Linked DNA regions of Homo sapiens. The protein of the gene in region 3 purifies or fractionates together with the protein of the main gene of each other region. This does not show direct contact. Each region holds a gene or a part of one and is shown on either strand. Other genes may lie near its edges.

The links.
Region 1: the proteins of SUGCT (region 3) and ALDH1L1 purify together in Homo sapiens (co-immunoprecipitation; one large-scale study listed by IntAct). This does not show direct contact.
Region 2: the proteins of SUGCT (region 3) and MRPL1 purify together in Homo sapiens (affinity purification with mass spectrometry; one large-scale study listed by BioGRID and IntAct). This does not show direct contact.

The regions. Positions count from the first base shown.
Region 1 is NC_000003.12:126,170,559-126,174,213, reverse strand, and holds part of ALDH1L1 (cytosolic 10-formyltetrahydrofolate dehydrogenase), read left to right. Parts: intron 1-3,655. UniProt on the Homo sapiens protein: Cytosolic 10-formyltetrahydrofolate dehydrogenase that catalyzes the NADP(+)-dependent conversion of 10-formyltetrahydrofolate to tetrahydrofolate and carbon dioxide.
Region 2 is NC_000004.12:77,897,306-77,900,960, forward strand, and holds part of MRPL1 (large ribosomal subunit protein uL1m precursor), read left to right. Parts: intron 1-3,655.
Region 3 is NC_000007.14:40,137,854-40,141,508, reverse strand, and holds part of SUGCT (succinyl-CoA:glutarate CoA-transferase), read right to left. Parts: intron 1-3,655. UniProt on the Homo sapiens protein: Coenzyme A (CoA) transferase that reversibly catalyzes the transfer of a CoA moiety from a dicarboxyl-CoA to a dicarboxylate in a metabolite recycling process.

The DNA.
Region 1 (3,655 bases), on a different chromosome or scaffold from region 3:
ATACAAAATTAGCCGGACGTGGTGGTGCATGCCTGTAATCCTAGCTACTCGGGCGGCTGAGGCAGGGGAATTGCTTGAACCCGGGAGGCGGAGGTTGCAGTGAGCCGAGATCGTGCCACTGCACTCCAGCCTGGGCAACAAGAGTGAAACTCCGCCCCCCCAAAAAAAACGTTAGTGGGGACTGACAGAGAGGTGTTGATGTCTCCAACTGTAATAATAGTGGATTCATCTATTTCTCCTTAAAATTCTGTCAGTTTTTGCTTTACACATTTTAGCACTGTTGTTAGGCACATACATATTAAGGAGTATTATGTCTGCTGGGATAATTGACTCCTTTACCATTATGTAGTGCTTCTCTTTATTCCTAATAATTTTCCTTTCTCTGAAGTCTGCTTTATCTGAAGTTAATAGAACTACTCCATATTTCTTTTGATTAGTGGTAGCACGGTATATCTTTCTCCATCCCTTTATTTGTAACCTATCTGGTTTTTATGTTGAAATGGGTTTGTTGTAGACAACATATAGTTAGGTCACGATTCTTTATTCACTCTAGATAGTCACATGTTTTAATTGGTATATTTACACCATTGATATTTGAAGTGATTTTTTGATATAGTTGGATTAATATTTACCATATTTATTACTGTTTTCTATTTGCCCTTTGTTTCTTTTTTCTTCCACACTTTTTTCTGCCTTTTCTGATCTTAACTGAGCATTTTATATGATTCCATTTTCTTTTCTCTCTTAGCATATCAGTTTTACTTTTTTGTTGTTGCTTTTTTAGTGGTTGACCTACAGTTTGCAATATACACTTAAATCTAATTTAAGTCTGCTTTTGAATAACACTATACAACTTTATGGGTAGTGTAAGGGCCTTATTGCAGAGTATTCTTGATTCCTCCCTCCCATGCCTTATTATTACTGCTATCATTCATTTCACTTATCCATAAGCTACAATCACTGAATACATTGTTGCAATTATTATTTTGAACAAATTGTTATCTCTCAGATTAAGAATAAGAAAAAAAATTATTTCACATTTATTTCTAATACTCTTTTGTATGTTGAGTTTCTGACTTGTTTAATTTTCCTTTTTTTCTGAATTACTTCTTTTAACATATCTTGTAAGGCAGTTTACTGGTGACAAATTCCTTCAATTTTTGTTTGAGAAGTCTTTCTCCTCCACTTTTGAAGGACAATTTTACTGCATACAGATGGAATCTAGTTAGTTCTAAGTTGATGGAATGTTTTCAGTTCTTTAAATAATTCTTTCTATTCTATTCCTGATTGCATGGTTTATGAAGAGACGTTTGATGTAATCCTCATCTCTCTCCCTCTATAGGTAAGGTGTCCTGCCCTGCCTCTCCCTGGCTTCACTGAAGATTATCTCTGTGTCTTTTATTTTTTGCAGTTTGAATATGATATGCCTAAGTATAGATTTTTTGGGGGGTGGGGGGTGATCTTTATCCTATTTGGTTTCCTCTGAGCTGCTTGGATCTTGGTTTGGTATCTGTCTTTAATTTTGGAAAATTATCAGTCATTATCACTTCAAACATTTTTACTATTCCTTTCTTTCTTTTTATTCCATCTGATATCCCTATTACAAGGATTTACACCTATGGCAATTGTCCCACCATTCTTGGATATTCTGTTTTGTCTTTTTTATTCTATATTTCCCTTTGCATTTCAGTTTGGGAAGTGTTTGTTGATATTTCATCCATCTCATTGATTATTTCCTCAACTGTATCCAGTCTATTGATAAACCTATTAAAGACATTCTTTGCATTTATCACAGGGTTTTTATTTCTAGACTTTTTTTGATTTTTTTCTTAATTTCCATCTCTCTGCTTACATGACCAATTTGTTCTTATATGTTCTCCACATTTTTCCATTAGAGCTCTTAGCATTTTAATTATCATTGTTTTAAATTTTCCATCTGAAAATTCCAACATTGCTTCCATATCTGATTGTGGTTTAGGTGCTTGTTTCATCTTTGCAAACTGTGTTTTTGTCTTTTATATATCTTGTAATTGTTTTGCAGAAAATCAGATATAATGTATTGGGTAAAAGGTACTGAGGTAGATAGGCTTTTAGTGTGAGGTTTGATATTTACCTGTCTAGGAGTTAGAATGTGTTTACTATTTGCTATAGCTGTGGGTATCAGAGGATATAATTTTCTCTCTTCATCTTCTTGTTTTTGTCTACCCTGTTGTCTTTGGGTTTTTGTAGAAACTCCTTAAATAGGCTCTGGCTTGCAGTTCTCTTATCCGTAATCCCCTTGTTACTATACTGGAGCCCTGTGGATGTAGTAGCAAGGTGTTTTGGTGGGGGGAAGTGTTTTACAGTCCTACAATTAGGTCTTAGTGTTTCAGTGAGCCTGCACCCCTGGGCTGTGACCTTCACAAGTGTTTCTCAGTCCTACCCCTTTTAGGTGATGAGAAAGGCTAGAGGGGCTGGATTTGGGTTTTTCCTCATCACTTAGGTTAGTTAGGCCCTGGGTGTCCATTCACTTAGGCTCTGGTATAATAGTTTCTATGAGGGTAGATATGTTGAGAAAAAAATGACTGCTTTCCTTGCCTCCTGCCAAAACCAGAAGGGGATTTTTCTCCAATCCTTACTGTGAGAACTGTAAGAATTAAAGAAAGAGGAAAGAAATACAAAAGCTGGCTTGCCAGTTAAGACATTTATTTTAGAGAAAATCAACCTGAAAGGAGCCTTCTGGCCAAGTTAGGTCAGAGGCACACTCTCTTACAGACTGAGTTTTTAAGGATTCAGGATGGGAGAGTTTATCAGAGGCTTGGACTGCTTCTGTGTCTCTTTGTTGTGCTTATCTGGGAGGGAGAGTTGTGTGCCTGTTTTCATACATTTTTCCTGCAGCTGCAGGTATAGTCCCTGAGTCTGTTTTTACTTATTTATTGAGACAGAGTCTCGCTCTGTCGCTAGGCCGGAGTGCAGTGGCGCCATCTCGGCTCACTGCAACCTCTGCTTCCCAGGTTCAAGCGATTTTCCTGCCTCAGCCTCCTGAGTAGATGGGACTACAGGCATGCGCCACCACGCCTGGCTAATTTTTTGTAGTTTTAGTAGAGACGGGGTTTCACCGTGTTAGCCAGGATGGTCTTGATCTCCTTACCTCGTGATCCGCCCGCCTCGGCCTCCCAAAGTGCTGGGATTACAGGCATGAGCCACCGCGCCCAGCCAAGAGTCTGCTTTTAGCTTTCCTGTCTTAGTGCCCCTGAAGGAAAGGGAATGTGCTTGTTCCTTATTATTAAGGCCCACTGTTTTACTGGGGCCCATCGTATGAGGGTGAAGTTTGGCAGTTACCCAAGATACTTTCCCCCCACCTCCCTTTGTGTCCCAGCTGTCTTATCCGTGTTTTACTGTCTGCTCTTTCTGGCTGCTTGTAGTTAGAAGAGAAGTGATTTCCTTGAAATGCATGAGGCTAGAAAGGGAGCTGGAATTTAAAGTGGCGGTGTTTGTCTGAGATGACAGTACTCCTGCTCTATCATTCCAGACCCTATGGTTATAAAAGGACAAGAGGGGACATGTTCTTTCTAGCTACTTCCTGCTGATGCGGGGGTGGAGAGTTTTTTGGTCTTAGATTGACTGTAGGATCAACACCATTTGTAGATGTTTTTGGGTAGTTGCGAAATGGCCA
Region 2 (3,655 bases), on a different chromosome or scaffold from region 3:
AGCCTCCTAAAGTGCTTGGCCTCCCAAAGTGCTGGGATTACAGGCGTGAACCACTGTGCCCAGCCAAAAAAAAATCTTGACTTAATGGTATCAGATGTTTATTATGCATATTAACCTGTGATAGGTACTGTGGCATATATGGGAACAGTTGAATTCTTTTATACCATACTAAGTTATTGTCAGGTAAGAAAGGGACATGATTAGAAAATTAGAATTACACTAATGTGTATTCCTCTTAACTTCTAACTCTTAGAATTGAACACTAGTGCTCCACTCGATGTCTTGTCCAAACGATATCCCAGCAGACTTGTCCAAAAGATATCCACATATGAGCAGGACACTGCTTTCCGTGAGGAATTTGGTGTTGTATCATACGTGAGACTCATGGATATTAAAGTTCTTGTAATGTGTAGCATTTTTAACTCATAGAATAGTACCTTGTACTTCAGGGTTTTGTTTGCATTATTGGAACAATCAGAAGTTTTGGTTATATAAGGGAAAATAACCAAAACGGAGAATTTTTGCAAGGTAATGAATTTGAAATTTTTCTAAATTTCTGCCCCTTCACATATTAGTTTAAAAACTATCCATGTATGAAAGACTCCATTAATGATTAGGTACTGTTACAATTGTTGTAGATGAAATATGGATCTATTATAGCTGGTTCTGTTATGCTTTCCTTTGCTTCCTTTACTTCAGCCTTGGCAGCCTCCTTGATCTTCCTCATACACACTAAGCACTCTCCCTCCTCAGGTCTTTGGATTTACTGTTGCATAGGTCTGTAGTAGTACTGTTTGCTTACTTGCCTTGCTCACTTTCTCATTCGAACATCATCTAAACAGAGAGACCTTCCATGACCATCCTATATAAAATATTACTACCACTTCCTATTATCACTAAATATCATTATTATGCTTTTGTATTCATTTTAGGACATATCACTCTTAGCATCTTTTTTTTGTGTGTGTGTGTGTGATGTGTGTTCAGTGCCTCTCATTAGAGCAAAGATGGTTTTGTTTTGTCCATTGCTACATTCCCATTGCCTAGAGTATAGTACCTGGAAAATAGTACGTACTCTACAAATATTTGAATGAATGAATGAATGAATGAATGAATGAATGTTTAATCCAGCACTCATTCAGTTGGTAGAAGATATAAAATTAAACTGTAACTTAAAAATGGAGTATACAATTTTTTTTTTTTTGAGACGGAGTTTTGCTCTGTTGCCCAGGCTGGAGCGCAGTGGCACATCTCGGCTCACTGCAACCTCCCCTTCCCGGGTTCATACAATTCTCCTGCCTCAGCCTCCTGAGTAGCTGAGATTACAGGTGTGCGCCACCATGCCCAGGTAATTTTTTTTGTATTTTTAGTAGAGATGGGGTTTCACCATGTTGGCCAGGCTGGTCTCAAACTCCTGACCTCAAATGATCCACATCCCTCAGCTTCCCAAAGTGCTGGGATTACATGCGTGAGCCACCGCACCCAGCTTGGACTATATACAATTTATAGTTTTTTTTTTATCAGAATAATTGTATTTATAGTAGTTGAGTATCTACTATGTGCCAAGCCTTGGGTGTGATAGCAGTGAACAAGACAGACAAAGTTCTTGCGGTCATAGAACTAACAGTTTTGTTTTCTGCAGTAGAGAAACTAGTTTAACTTTTTACAGTTACTTATGCACAGATTTTTTTTTTTTTTTTTTTTTTGAGACAGAGTCTCGTTCTGTCACCCAGGCTGGAGTGCAGAGACATGATCTTGTCTCACTGCAACCTCTGCCTCCTGGGTTCAGGTGATTCTCTTGCCTCAGCCACCAGAATAGCTGGGACTACAGGCATGTGCTGCCACGCCTGGCTCATTTTTTTTTTTTTTTTTTGTATTTTCAGTAGAGACGGGGTTTTGCCATGTTGGCCAGGCTGGTCTTGAACTCATGAGCTCAAGTGATCTACCTGCTGCAGTCTCCCAAAGTGCTGGGATTACAGGCATGTGCAACCATGCCTGGCCATTTATGCTCAGATTTCTTTAAACAAACAAAAAGCAAATCACGAGCCCCCCCGCACCTTCATTTGATTCAACTATCCTTTCCAGCTGCGATCTTAGTTTTTTATGTGTTTTATGTTAAGTTTTTCAAATAATGGTCTTCAGCAATTGGCTTCATTTTCTTACTAAGCATTAGTATTCCTTACAGCTTTTTCTTCCATAATTTAGCTAAAATATTGCTCTCTCAGTTATCACAGGTTTTTCTTTTGCCATATTCAAAGGTCTGTTCTTAGTTTTCTCTGTTTCTTGCAACTTCTTTCAGGAGGTAATGTATGCAGTCCTAACTCACCTCTTTTCTAACTATTTCTTCTTTGTTTTCCTTGATTAAAAAAAGAAAAGAGAAGGTATTTTAGGAGGAAATACTTGATCGTATAGTATAGGTTATGTTCATTATGGAAATTGAATAGAGAATTAAAGGAAAAGAAAGTGAAAGGAAGAAAGAAAATGAAGAAAGAAGAGCCTAAAAACACAGAGAAAAGTGAAAGTGGAGAAAGAGGAAAGCAGTTAAATAGCAGTAAGGGATAGCAAAGCCCTAGAAATAGCAGTGATGATTTAACATTTGCCTGTATTGAAAAGCAGAGTAGAATAGTGGTTAGTATAGATCTCTCTTTGTCTTGTCTTTGTCAGTTACTGTGACCTTGAGCAAACTTTTTAACATTTTGTGCCTTATTTATTCATCTACAAAATGAGTTTCATTATAACATCCATCCCATACTGTTTTTGTGATAATGTATGAAGCACAAGCTGGGTACATAACATATGATGTGTGGGCCACTATGATTATCATTAGCTCCCTATCATTCCTAAAGTAGCTATTCATTCTCCACAATTACTTTAGGAGAAGCTATTCTTTTTCATGTATTTATATATCACCTTCATAACTTATTTGTTGAAAAAGCAGATAATTATTGGCATGCCTACCTATGTGCCAGCTGACTACACTTAGTACTGAGGATTGAAAAATAAACTGAAAAGACATTTTCTGTCTTTAAGAAGATAAACACTGAGGAGAGAGAGATGAGAGCAAACTGCTGCACTAAAATGCAATAAGTTTATTGGTAGAAAATGTACAAAGTATTGTAGAGGAATGAGGGACTGCTTTGTAGAATGAGATTATATAAAGAAGACTGCAGTTGAGAGGTTAAGCATGAATAGGCATTTGCTTTCCTTACATGAATCAGGCAGAGGAAATGGCCATTTTACATATACAAAAGTATGAGAGAGCCAGTAGTGTTCAAGAAATTATAAGCAGCTTTCTATCATTTGGTATATAAAATGTTATCAGATACTGGTGGTCAATGGGATTGGACAGTGATAGACAGTGGGCTAGGTCACAGCAGGCTTTGTGTGCTATACCATGGAGATTAGATTTTATCCTCTTTGCAAATAGGAGCCATTGAAAACTTTAGCTCAGAAGAATGATGTAAGATTTGCTTATCAGAATGAGTATTGTGAGAACTGTATAAGTGGTAGGGTAGCCATATGAGGATGGTGAAACTTTAAGAACAGAGACCAGCGAGGAGGCGATTACAGTAATCCAGGTAAAAGATGAAGAAGGAAAGAGTCTGGTAGTGGCAGTGAAGACAGATGAGGAAAGATGTTGTTGGATATTAAGAAT
Region 3 (3,655 bases):
GTGCCCACCACCACGCCTGACTATTTTTTTGTATTTTTACTAGAGACGGGGTTTCACTATGTTGGCCAGGCTGGTCTCGAACTCCTAACCTTGTGATCCATCTGCCTCAGCCTCCCAAAGTGCTGGGAGTACAACCATGAGCCACCGCGCCTGGCCCAAGAAGCACACTCTCATGCATAATCTGTCAAAAATTTATAAATCAGATGGGCACAGTGGCTCATGCCTGTAATCCCAGCACTTTGGGAGGCCTTTGCAGTGAGCCTACATTGCACCATTGTACTCCAGCATGGGTAGTAGAGCAAGACTGTCTCAAAAAAAAAAAAGGAAAAGAAATCACTAGGATTTCTGTTCACCAATAATGTTCTACCCGAGGACGAAACCAAGAAGGCAGTCCCATTTATGATAGCTACAAAAAAATAAAACACCTAGGAATATATTTAACCAAGAAGGTGAAAGAAATCTACAAGGAAAACTACAAAACACTGATGAAAGAAACTATAGATGAAACAAAAAAATGGAAAAACACCCCATGCACGTAGGCTGAAAGAATTAATGTGGTTAAAATGACCATTGTGCCCAAAGCAATCTGCAGGTTCAATGCAATTTCTATCAACATCATTTTTTCACAGAATTAGAAAAAACAATTCTAAAGTTCATATGGAACTAAAAATGAGCCCGAATAGCCAAAAATATCCCAAGTAAAAAGAACAAAGCTGGTGTTATCACATTTTCTGACTTCAAAATATACTACAAGGCTATAGTAGCCAAAACAGCATAATACTCATAGTGTCTATAAAAACAGACACATAGGGCCAGGTGCGGTGCCTCATGCCTGTAATCCCAGCACTTTGGGAGGCCAAGACAGGCGGATCATGAGGTCAGGAGTTCAAGACCAGCTTTACCAACATGGTGAAACTCCGTCTCTACTAAAAATACAAAAATTAGCCAGGTGTGGTGGCGTGCGCCTGTAATCCTAGCTACTCAGGAGTCTGAGGCAGGACAATCGCTTGAACCCGGGGGGCGGAGGTTGCAATGAACTGAGATTGCACAACTGCACTCCAGCCTGGGCAACAGAGCAAGACTCTACCTCAATAAATAAATAAATAGACACATAGATCCATGGAACAGCATACATAACCCAGAAATAAACCCACATGCTTAAAGCCAACTGATTTTTGACAAAGTCGACAACATTTACTGGGGAAAGGATACCCTTTTCAGTAAAAGGTGCTGGGAAAATTGGATTGCCATATGCAGAAGAATGAAACTGGATCCCTGTATCTCACCATATAAAAAAATCAATTTGGCCAGACACGGTGGCTCACACCTATAATCCCAGCACTTTGGGAGGCCTAGGCGGGCGGATCAACTGAGGTCGAGAGTTTGAGGCCAGCCTGACCAACATGGAGAAACCCTGTCTCTACTAAACACACAAAAAATTCGCGGGGCATGGTGGCGCATGCCTGTAATCCCAGCTACTTGGGAGGATAAGGTAGGAGAATCGCTTGAACCCAGGAGGCGGAGGCTGCAGTGAGCCGAGATCGCGCCATTGCACTCCAGCCTGGACAACAAAAGCGAAACTCCATCTTAAAAAAAAAAGAAAGAAAAAAATAAATTCAAGATGGATTAAAGACTTGAATGTAAGGATGAAACTCTAAAAATACTGAAGAAAACCTAGGGGAAACTCTTCTAGACATTGATCTAGGCAAAGAATTCATGACTGAGACCTCAAAAGCACGGGCAACAAAAACAAAAATAGGCAAATGGAACTTCATTAAACTAAAAAGCTTCTGCATAGCAAAAGAAATGATCAACAGAGTGAACGGATAACCTGAGGAATGGAAGAAAATATCTGCAAACTACATATCCAACAGGGGACTAATATCCAGAATTTGTAAGCAACTCAAACAACTCAACAACAAAAAACAAATAATCCCATTAACAAATGGGCTAAGGACATGAGTAGGCATTTTTCAAAAGACAAACAAGCATATCAAAAATGTTCACCATCAGCCGGGCACAGTGGCTCACGCCTGTAATCCCAGCACTTTGGAAGGCTGAGGTGAGTGGATCAGCTGAGGTCCGGAGTTTGAGACAAGCCTGGCCAACATGGTGAAACCCCCGTCTCTGCTAAAAATACAAAAATTAGCCAGGCGTGGTGGCACACACCTGTAGTCCCAGCTACTGTGGAGGCTGATGCAGAACAATCCTTGAACCCAGGAGGTGGAGGTTGCAGTGAGCTGAGATCTTGCCATCGAACTCCAGCCTGGGTGACAGAACAAGACTTTGTCACAAAATTAAATAAATTAATTAATATTATGAATCCTGGATTTATTTATTTATTTATTTATTTATTTATTTATTTATTTATTTATTTATTTTTGAGCCAGAGTTTTGCTGTTGTCGCCCAGGCTGGAGTACAATGGGCAATCTCGGCTCACTCCTGACCTCAGGTGATCCACCCACTTCAGCCTCCCAAAGTGGTAGGATTACAGGCATAAGCCACCACGCCCAGCCTGATTCCTAAACTTAATCCAATAACAGATTTCTTCTCAAACATTGGCAGTATGCTGTAATCATTTTAAATTCATAACCAGAAAATGAGTTGAACAAAAAATTCAAGACTCTAGGGAAACAAAAATAGTTTGTATATTGCTAGAATTGTCTATTAAGAGTCATGTTTTCATGCCTTTTAATCTTCCCTGAAAATTTCTGTGTACTGCCATGAGTAAAATTTTTAAAAAATGTTCAACATCACCAATCATCAGAGAAATACAAATTAAAAACCACAATGAGATATCATCTTACACACAACAGAATGGCTATTAAAAAGACAAAAAAAATCACAGGATGTTGGTGAGGAAGCTGAGAAAAGGGAACTCTTCTTATACACTGTTGGTGGGAATGTAAATCAGTGCACCTTCTATGGAAAACAGTATGGAGATTTCTCACAGAACTAAAAATAGAACTACCGGAAGATGCAGCAATCCCACTACTGTGCATCTACCCAAAGGAAAAGAAATCATTACATCAAAAAGACACCTGCACTCATATGTTTATCACGGCACTATTCATAAAAGCAAAGATATGAAATCAACCTAAGTGCCCATCAATGGAGCACTAAATAAACAAAATATGGCATATATACAAAATGGAATACTATTCAGCCATAAAAAAGAATGAAATTATGTCTTTTGCAGCAACATGGATAGAACTGGGGGCCATTATCTTAAGTGAAATCACTCAGGCACAGAAAAACAAATATTGCCTGTTCTCCCTTATAAGTTGGTGGTAAATAATGCGTACATATGGAAGCAGAGTGTGGAGTGATGGGCAATGGAGACTTGGAGGGTTGGGGATGTAGAGGGAAGGGGATGGACTACAGGAGGTTGCTTGCTGGGTACAATGTGTCTTGTGCCAGTGATGGATGCACTGAAGGCCCTGACTTCACCCCAATACAATATATCAATGTAGCAAAACTGCACTTGTACCCCCATGAATATATGCCAAAACAAAATCATAACTGGCTGGGGCACAGGGGGCTCATGCCTGTAATCCCAGCACTTTGAGAGGCCCAGGTGGCTGGATTCTGTGAGCTGAGGAGTTCAAGACCAGTGTGGGCAACATGGCAAAACCCCATGTCTTCAAAAAATAC